2 linked regions of the Homo sapiens genome follow. The protein of the gene in region 2 purifies or fractionates together with the protein of the main gene of each other region. This does not show direct contact. Each region holds a gene or a part of one and is shown on either strand. Other genes may lie near its edges.

The links. Proteins that work in one complex are often made in the same cells at the same time.
Region 1: the proteins of HIBCH (region 2) and UMPS fractionate together in Homo sapiens (co-fractionation; one large-scale study listed by BioGRID). This does not show direct contact.

What each region holds. Positions count from the first base shown.
Region 1 is NC_000003.12:124,736,952-124,740,470, reverse strand, and holds part of UMPS (uridine 5'-monophosphate synthase), read right to left. Parts: intron 2,904-3,519; coding exon 2,232-2,903; exon of another isoform or gene 2,028-2,231; intron 448-2,027; coding exon 272-447; intron 1-271. UniProt on the Homo sapiens protein: Bifunctional enzyme catalyzing the last two steps of de novo pyrimidine biosynthesis, orotate phosphoribosyltransferase (OPRT), which converts orotate to orotidine-5'-monophosphate (OMP), and orotidine-5'-monophosphate decarboxylase (ODC), the terminal enzymatic reaction that decarboxylates OMP to uridine monophosphate (UMP).
Region 2 is NC_000002.12:190,291,011-190,296,436, forward strand, and holds part of HIBCH (3-hydroxyisobutyryl-CoA hydrolase, mitochondrial isoform 1 precursor), read right to left. Parts: intron 3,621-5,426; coding exon 3,536-3,620; intron 1-3,535. UniProt on the Homo sapiens protein: Hydrolyzes 3-hydroxyisobutyryl-CoA (HIBYL-CoA), a saline catabolite. Has high activity toward isobutyryl-CoA. Could be an isobutyryl-CoA dehydrogenase that functions in valine catabolism. Also hydrolyzes 3-hydroxypropanoyl-CoA.

The DNA.
Region 1 (3,519 bases), on a different chromosome or scaffold from region 2:
AGATTTAGTAAGTGTTTGTTTGACTAACTATCTGGGTCTCAAAGTTTCTCTTGGAGTATAATTCAAATTCCTGAAGTGTCCACTACATGATATAAAATGCTATTAACTATCAAGGAATTCTATCCAACTAGTATTAATATACTGTCACACTAACAAGAGCTGGATTTTTTTTTTGGCAGAGGTTCCAGAAACGCCAGATTAGGAGATATCTTCTTGCAGCATGCAGCATAGCAGCCCCTGCCCCCTCTCACCCAGTCCCCCCACCACTTACCGCTGCTCTAGTGTAGTCCCCAGTGGCCAGGGAGCCGGTGGAGCTCATTTCCGCAATAAGGAGGCACCCCCGATGCAAAGGCAGGCCCACTTCTTGCAGGCCTTTCACAACTCCTGAGCCTGGCACCACGTGAGCATTTACTAGATCTGCCCAGGAAGCTATTTTAAAGATACCTCCTAAGAAGAAGGGGGAAAAAAGATATTTGCTGATTTTCAAACAAAACCTCTAACGTCTTGTCCAACCAACCAACTACAATATGAAATAATCTCCCAGTAACATGTTAATGAGAGAATCAAAACTCTTCAGGAACTTTAGTGATTATCAGCAGACCCATGGTTCCATCTGTGAAAACTGTATCTGTTATTCAGGTAAGTAGCTGGGTGAGAGATCACAATGAGAAAAAACTTTCAAGGTCTGCACTTGGCTTATCTGGAACACTAACAGGACTCTTTTTCCTTGAAGGCTGAAGCTCATGACCACAAATAAAGCTCATGCTATTAGAAAGGGACTCCAGTGAAGATAAACATTTATTGATGTCAAGGATAACATTTAAAAATTCCTCTTGAAGCTGGGCATGGTGGCTCATGCTTGTAATCCCAGTACTTTGGGAGGCTGAGGTGGGCAGATTGCTTGAGTTTAGGAGTTCGAGACCAGCCTGGGCAACATGGCAAAACTCCATCTCTACCAAAAATACAAAAAAATTAGCTAGGTGTGGTGGCGCATGCCTGTGGTCCCAGCTACTTGGGAGGCTGAGGTGGGAGGATCACTTGAGCCCAGGAGGTGGAGGTTGCAGTGAGTCAAGATTGCACCACTGCACTCCAGCCTGGGCGACAGAGCAAGACCCCATCTCAAAAAAAATAATAATAAAAATAAAATTCTTCTTGAAGATGACAAGTTTTCACTCTGCAGGGGTCTCTCAGCAGCTTTACTATCGCTCAATATTTCTACGTGTTCCTTAGATCTCCTTAGCTATCTAATTTCAATAGGCAACTATATTCCTTTTAAAAGCGGACAGTAACAAGCCTGATTTTCGAAAAAACTCTATGCAGAGCTGAAGAAAGTTTGTATAAAACTCTTATGTCAGTCAATCAGCTAAAGTAAGCTAGGCAATGTGATGAGGGCAGGACATCTTAAGCACATGAAGAAGTCACTTAAAGACAAATCTATTTTAAAGAAATAGCTTATGAACATGCATACATTAAAGAAAAGTTACCTCAAAGATGCCTACAAAAAATGTTATATGACACAACCAAATATCTGTTACCAGGTTAAGTGAAAAATGCATTAAATATAGTCTGATCACACAGTTGTAAAAACATAGACAGAAATTTGCATAGAATAGGCAGTAGAACTAAGCATTTTTCTCAACCAACACATGCACTACTTTGAGTCCCTATTTGATAAAAGAAAAATCTTTAAATAATGTTTATCAATAGAACTTTTTCTGCTACAAATAAATCTTACCATTTTATATTTCTTTTTCATTGTTTCCTTTATGTGGAATTTTCATTCAAAACATCATATTCTGCCAAGGACATCTGTCAAATTTGCTTGCCCAGGCACATACCCTTCTTCTGGTACTAGCACATCCATTTTCTTTAAGGAAATTATCCCTGACTGGTTCTTATTTCAAGAAGGTCATACAGAGTTAACAACCTCACAGTTGCAGAGCAAATTGCCCAGGCTAGTTAATGAAGGTATTCTACATCCCAAGCTAGAGTGATTGGTTTGGGGTGAGCATGCAGAGTATGCCTACCTGAGAAAGAAGTCAACAGAGAAGAAAGCAGAGCTGAGAGATGGAGAGAAAGCAAGTCATGAAGATATCACTTGAGCTCCTGGATCCAACCACGCTTGACAGCCTGCTCTATGAATGGACTTTCAATGACATGAGCATTTCCTTTTTCTTCTTCAGTTTAAGCTGGATTTCTGATTCTTGCAGATTCCTGAATAATACACTTACCTTCATACTGCTTTTTCACTGTGTTTCCTATATCTGCAAACTTCCGGTCTTCAAATATCAAGAACTCATGGCATTTTGCCAGAGTTATCAACTCCTTCATCACATCCAGAGTAAAATCATTCAAAATATCTACATGAGTCTTCAGCATGCAGATACTAGGTCCTAAAGCATCTGCTAGCTGCAACAGCTCTCTGGCCAGTGAAACATCAGCAGATAGACACAGATTGGTCTCCTTCTTTTGCATAAGCCTGAGAAGCTTCGATGCAACTGGGTGGATCCTGGGCAGCTCTGCACGTGCACCGAAGCTGAGTTCTTTGGGTGCTTCCTTTATAGAAAGGGGAGAACCATTATGATTCGCTGCCACAAAGACATTCTCCTGAATAAACCTCTTCACTCTCCCAACTGTCTCAGCATCAACTTTTTTCTGCTGCTCGAGAATCTCCAGCATTTTGGACAATGTACACACTGAGTGGAGGCGGATCCCGTGCGCCTGCAACTTGTCCTTGCCTCCCTGCTCTCTGTCCAACAGCACTATGGCATCAGTGACCTTCAAGCCCTCCTTCTGAAGAACCTCAACAGTTTCCAAAACACTAGATCCACTGGTGACAACATCTTCAATGATTAAACAGGTTTCTCCTGGATTAATAGTTCCTTCTACAAGACGCTTAGTTCCTAGAAAAGAAAAAATTTTGCTGATTCCAAATTTAAATATGTATGTATATGTGCGTATATACGTACACACACTCTGTATACAAAACTTGCCAGTTACACATACAGTATATGTGTATACCAATTCTGTATACCAAACTTGCTAGTTGCACATACAGTATATTTATGTATAAAGCCAACTCTGTATACCAAACTTGCCAGTTACACATACAGTATATTTATAGTAAATCAAGTAAATTATTTCACATTATAAACACTGCTTAATGTGTTTTATGATCAAATTTTCAAATAGAGAGGTTTTTTTTTTACTTTAAAAAAATCTGTTTTATCATAGAGATGAGGTCTCACTATGTTGTCTAGGCTGGTCTTGAACTCCTGAGCTCAAGTGATCCTCCCGCCTCAGCCTCCCAAAATGCTAGGATTATAGGTGTGAGCCACCACGTCCAGCCTAAATACAGAGTTTCTTACAGCAAGATCACCTAGATCAAGGAAAGTTATGAAACAGAATAATCCAGTATCATGAATGAAATAATTCCTTTTTCCATCAAAGTATTTTAAGTTCACTATTCAAGATCAGCCAAATAATTGACTTTTTGAAGACACAAATTCAGAAGGAAAA
Region 2 (5,426 bases):
CTTAAAAAAAATAATAATATATTGCAACAAGCTACATTTTCTTTTGATTATTTTCTCTAGCACTTAAATTAACATTTGCTAGACATACATTTCCTTTGGTAATATGTCTTAATACAAAATGTATTATACGTGTGTGTATAGTGCTACAACGTATCCCATGTCCTTAAATATTTCTGCCACATTCATTTCCCCCATAAAACATTTATTGAGCACCTACTACATACCAAGTAATGTTTTAGGTGTTGCAGATAATAAAGACAGCAACACAAGATGGCTGTCCTGGAGTTTAGACTGATACTAAAACATATTCTTTGTCCTGTAAGGATTGGGGTGCTGTCAGAATGGGAGCAGGAGATGTGTAATTAATTAAAAGAAGGCTTCCTAGAAGAGGTAACCCTAAGCCAAGTTGGAAAAGGTAAATAGGAATTTCCTAGAAAATGACAGAAAGAAAAATTCTGACTAGGGGAAGCAGTACCCTACAAAGCCTCAAAGTCAAGAAAGAAGAGTAAAATCAAGAATCAAACAGCTTTAAAAGACTAAAGGGCAAAGGGAAAAGGTGAGGCTAGACAGGTAAATAATATACTGACATTCTTATTTATTAACATCGATAGAAATGTAAATTCTCAAAGACATTGCTACAGCATACCACTGCCTGGCTTAAAAAACAAATGCTCAGTAAATATCTACTGAATAGTGAACACTATCAAATGGTTTCACTTCTGTTGCAATCTTCTATTACCCAGAGTTCACATCTCCTACCATATTCCTCCTCCAGTCAATCTCAAGACTGCTATCAAAGTTTCCTCTTCTATATACTGCAACTCATATGCCTTTCTTGTCTTTAAGTCCTATGAGATTTATCTATTAAAACACAAACTAAACATTTCATAGATATGTTTCCTCTTTTATGGGAAAGTATTACATACAAAATGTTGTCTACCAATTCTTACACTAACTCTAGAATTCTCTTGTTTGTTTTTTGTTTGTTTTGAGACAGAATCTCGCTTTGTTGCCCAGGCTGGAGTACAGTGGCACAATCTTGGCTCACTGCAACCTCCACCTCCCAGGTTGAAGTGATTCTCCTGCCTCAGCCTCCCAAGTAGTTGGGATTACAGGCATGTGCCACCATGCCTGGCTAATTTTTGTATTTTTAGTAGAGAGGGGTTTCACTATATTGGCCAGGCCGGTCTCGAACTCCCAACCTCAGGTGATCTGCCGGCTCGGGCCTCCTAACTCTAGAATTCTGATATCTCTTCCTTCAAAATGTTCCATATGTCGACTTCTTTTCCTGGTTTTTTGGGGTGTTTGTTTTTGAAACGGAGTCTTGCCTTGTCACCAGGCTGGAGTGCGGTGGCATGATCTCAGCTCACTGCAACCTCCACCTCCCAGGTTCAAGCAATTCTCCTGCCTCAGCCTCCCAAGTAGCTGGGACTATAGGCGCATGCCGCCATGCCCAGCTAATTTTTCTTTTTTGTATTTTAGTAGAGACGGGGTTTCACCACATTGCCCAGGCTGGTCTCGAACTCTTGAGCTCAGGCAATCCTCCCACCTCGGCCTCCCAAAGTGCTGAGATTACAGGCGTTAGCCTCTGCACCCAGTCCTTTTACTGGTTTTTAAAAGAAAGATCTGACACCTACTTTTATCATTCTGAGGTTTCACTTATACCTAAACAAACAAACAAACAAACAAAAAATGACTATCTTTGTTTATCATCTTTTATTCAGCTCTTATCACTGCTTACCAATTCTAAAAGGAAAGGAATGTAAGTTTTATCGCCTTTGGAATGAAGCTCTTTTACCTCAAAAACCTTCTCAAATTTCCTTCAAATCTTTTTCTGATCTAATTTTTATTCTAATCAATTAGTTCCATCTAAATTAAAATTAAATGTCCTTCACAATCATTTTTTGAAAATTTTCTGAGTGTCCACTTATTGTCTTGGACTATAATCTTTCAAGAAATTACATTTCCTGGACTTGAATCCACTGCTTTATATGTGTAAACTACAATAATTCTACAACTTGTAGCTGTTATTTCCAAACATCAATATAAAATTAGGCCTATATGCAGAAATAGCTCAGTCAGAAAAAGCTAATAAACTCAATACATAAAGCTCTGCCCACCTGTAAACTGACGATCACAGGCCAGACGAAAGGCTAATTCAAGGCTGAAAAACAGTATTTTAAAAATATGCATGTTGTTGGGAGGCCGAGGCAGGCGGATCGCCTGAGATCAGGAGTTCAAGACCAGCCTGGCCAACATGGTGAAACCCTGTCTCTACTAAAAATACAAAAAATTAGCAGGGCATGTTGGCAGGCACCTGTAATCTCAGCTACTCGGGAAGCTGAGGCAGGAGAATTGTTTGAACCTGGGAGGTGGAGGTTGCAGCGAGCAGAGATCACGTGACTGCACTCCAGCCTGCGCAACAAGAGCGAAACTCCGTCTCAAAAAAAAAAATAAATAAATAAATAAAATAATAAAAAAACGCATGTTGTAGGCAAAACAACAGATTCAAAAACAATTCAGTTAACAGATCAGTTTAAGTAATCAAAGTTTTCATTAAACTGCAATTTTAAAATTCATTAATAAGTATTTGAAATTATGTCCTGAATCCAGCTTTTTTCCTGTTCCTAAGGTAATGGTTTACGTAAGTTTGGTGAACAAGCCCAAAGACTGTTGTCTTAATACAACAAACAAACAAACATATAAAATTAAAACACAAAGAAAAAAACCATCCCTGAACCCTACCAAATCCACAAGAAACAAGATACAAAATGTAAAAAGTTTTCAATATACTGTACATATAATATGGACAATTATAGTGATTATAATAAATACATGACACTGATGCTGAGAACAGACATTTCTTCTCTTTTGTCTTTAACATTTAAATGTGTATAGACAGACTGACCTGAACAATTATGAAAAATAAAGAGAGTTTCTCTTTTTATCTCAGCATGTTTAAACACGTAAAATATACTTACAATATATATTTTGTAATATATATTTTGTGTGTATATATATATATATATATATATATATATATAGCAACAGGATAAATGCTATAAATAAGTACATAGAAGATGGTTGCTTTGGGATCTTGAATAGTGGGAAGCATAGGAAAAGTTATGGAAATATGTGAGAGCATGTCATATTTGAAGAATGGCAAGTCAACATGGCCAGATAGTCAGGTTATAAGACCAACAGAACTGCTTAATATCAGCTCTTCTAAAATATAAAGTGGACCCATATACCCTAACTGGACATTTTGTTTGTGATGATTCAGGGAGAGAGACAACATATTTAAATTTCAAATGGGTATTTGTGTAGTGAGAAAAAAAAATCTGCTATTCTCATTTGCTAATACTAACTGCAGAAAGTAAGTCTTTAAATTTTTCTTTTTCCTAAGAATGTATTAACTTTATAATAAAAAGTTCTAAAAAGTAAAGCAAATTATAAATTATTACAAAAATTTGACAATACTTGATCAGTTCTAGTAGGGGGAAAGAGCACTCAGGTGAAAGGGAAAAGTCTTTACCTCTGATATCACCCCCGGCACAGAAAGCCTTTCCTCCTGCTCCCTTTATAATGATCAGGAAAGTTTCAGGATCTTGTTCCCACTTCTATTCAAATGTAACAGAAGATGGTATAAGCATATTATAAACACAAACTCATTAAAGTTATATGCATATGCACATATATTCAATCATATATTCATATACATATGTGTTTGTGACAGTACATATTCTTCTGTAAGGGATATCCAGAAGAACGAATCTCATCCCATTCCTTATCAAATGAACTTCATATGCTTTTCCCAGATAAAGTAGAGGCTATTTCAAAAATGTTGCTAGATGAGTACACTGTGTGATCCAAATTTCAAGATGGCACCTGAAATCTTTGCCATAACTTTGATACCAAGATGAACAAATAAGGGCATAATAATAATATGTTACATAAACGTATAAATTTGGAGAACAAATCAACCCAAAGACTGCTGATAAATATAGCAATAACCTTTCTACTGTGCTGATACAGGGCTCTCTTACTCTTAATACGTAAGTAACATAGTGAAACCACTTATAATATAAAAAATCCAAGTCCTTTGGGATTGGTAAAGACAGCTAATAAATAAGTAGGATGAAAGAATCAAGAGCCGATGAAAATGTGAAAGTCCAGAACAATGGACGAAATGAAAAATTAGTTACCCACAGACAGAAAACTTAACAGGGGTTCTATCAATCTATACAGGTTGAGTATCCCTTATCTGAAATGCTTGGGACCAAAAGTGTTTCAGACTTTTTTAGATTTTAGAATATTTGCATATACAATATGAGATATCCTGGGGATTGGGAATTCCTTTATGTTTCATATCCACCTTATACACATAGCCTGAAAGTAATTAATTTTTCCCATAGGGACCCTGAATAAACAGTGTGTTGTGCACTTGTATTTTGACTGCGAGCAATCATGAGGCCAGGTGTGGAATTTTCCACTTGTGGCATCATGTTGATGCTTAAAGAGTTTTTGAATTTTATAGCATTTTGAATTAAGGATGTTCAACCTGTACTAGAGAATAAATATGTAACGCACAAGGAAGATGTAGCTGGAAAGACGTGATTGTCCAAAAGGTTCATGCAATACCGGACTACATTAATTACATTAATAGAGATGTTATTCTAACATGAACATTTCTAATTTCTTCCACTCTGGTCCAACTTTGATTTGCAACATTTGGCTTATTTCTATGTATCACATTTTGGGACATATTATAATGGTATCTCAAACAGAAACATAAGAATGGAAGACAGACTCATCAAAAGAAGAATTAAGGAATTGGTAGCCAGGGGAAAACTAGTATTTGTTAAACATCTACATGGCAGACTGTATTAGGTACTTATATATACTATTCACTTAATCTTTACATATCATCATCCCCATTTCAGAACTGAGGAGATTTGAGGTATGGAGAGATTAACTTTCCCAGCCTACACTGTTAATAAATAGAAATCCACGTTTCAAACCAGACAGTCTGACTTTAAGTCCTGTTTTTCTACTATTCCATGCTGCTCACTTAGGAAAGTTTACGGCCTTCTCTGAGAAAAAGCAGGCAGTTTAAAAGCAGCTGTCTGGCCGGGTGCGGTGGCTCACGCCTGTAATCCCAGCACTTTGGGAGGCCGAGGCAGATAGATCACAAAGTCAGGAGATCAAGACCATCCTGGCTAACACGGTGAAACCCCGTCTCTACTAAAAATACAAAAAATTAGCCGGGTGTGGTGGCGGGCACCTGTAGTCCCAGCTACTCAGGAGGCTGAAGCAGGAGAATGGCATGAACCCGGGAGGTGGAGCTTGCAGTGAGCCGAGATGGTGCCACTGCACTCCAGCCTGGGCGACAGAGTGAGACTCCTCCGTCTCAAAAAAAAAAAAAA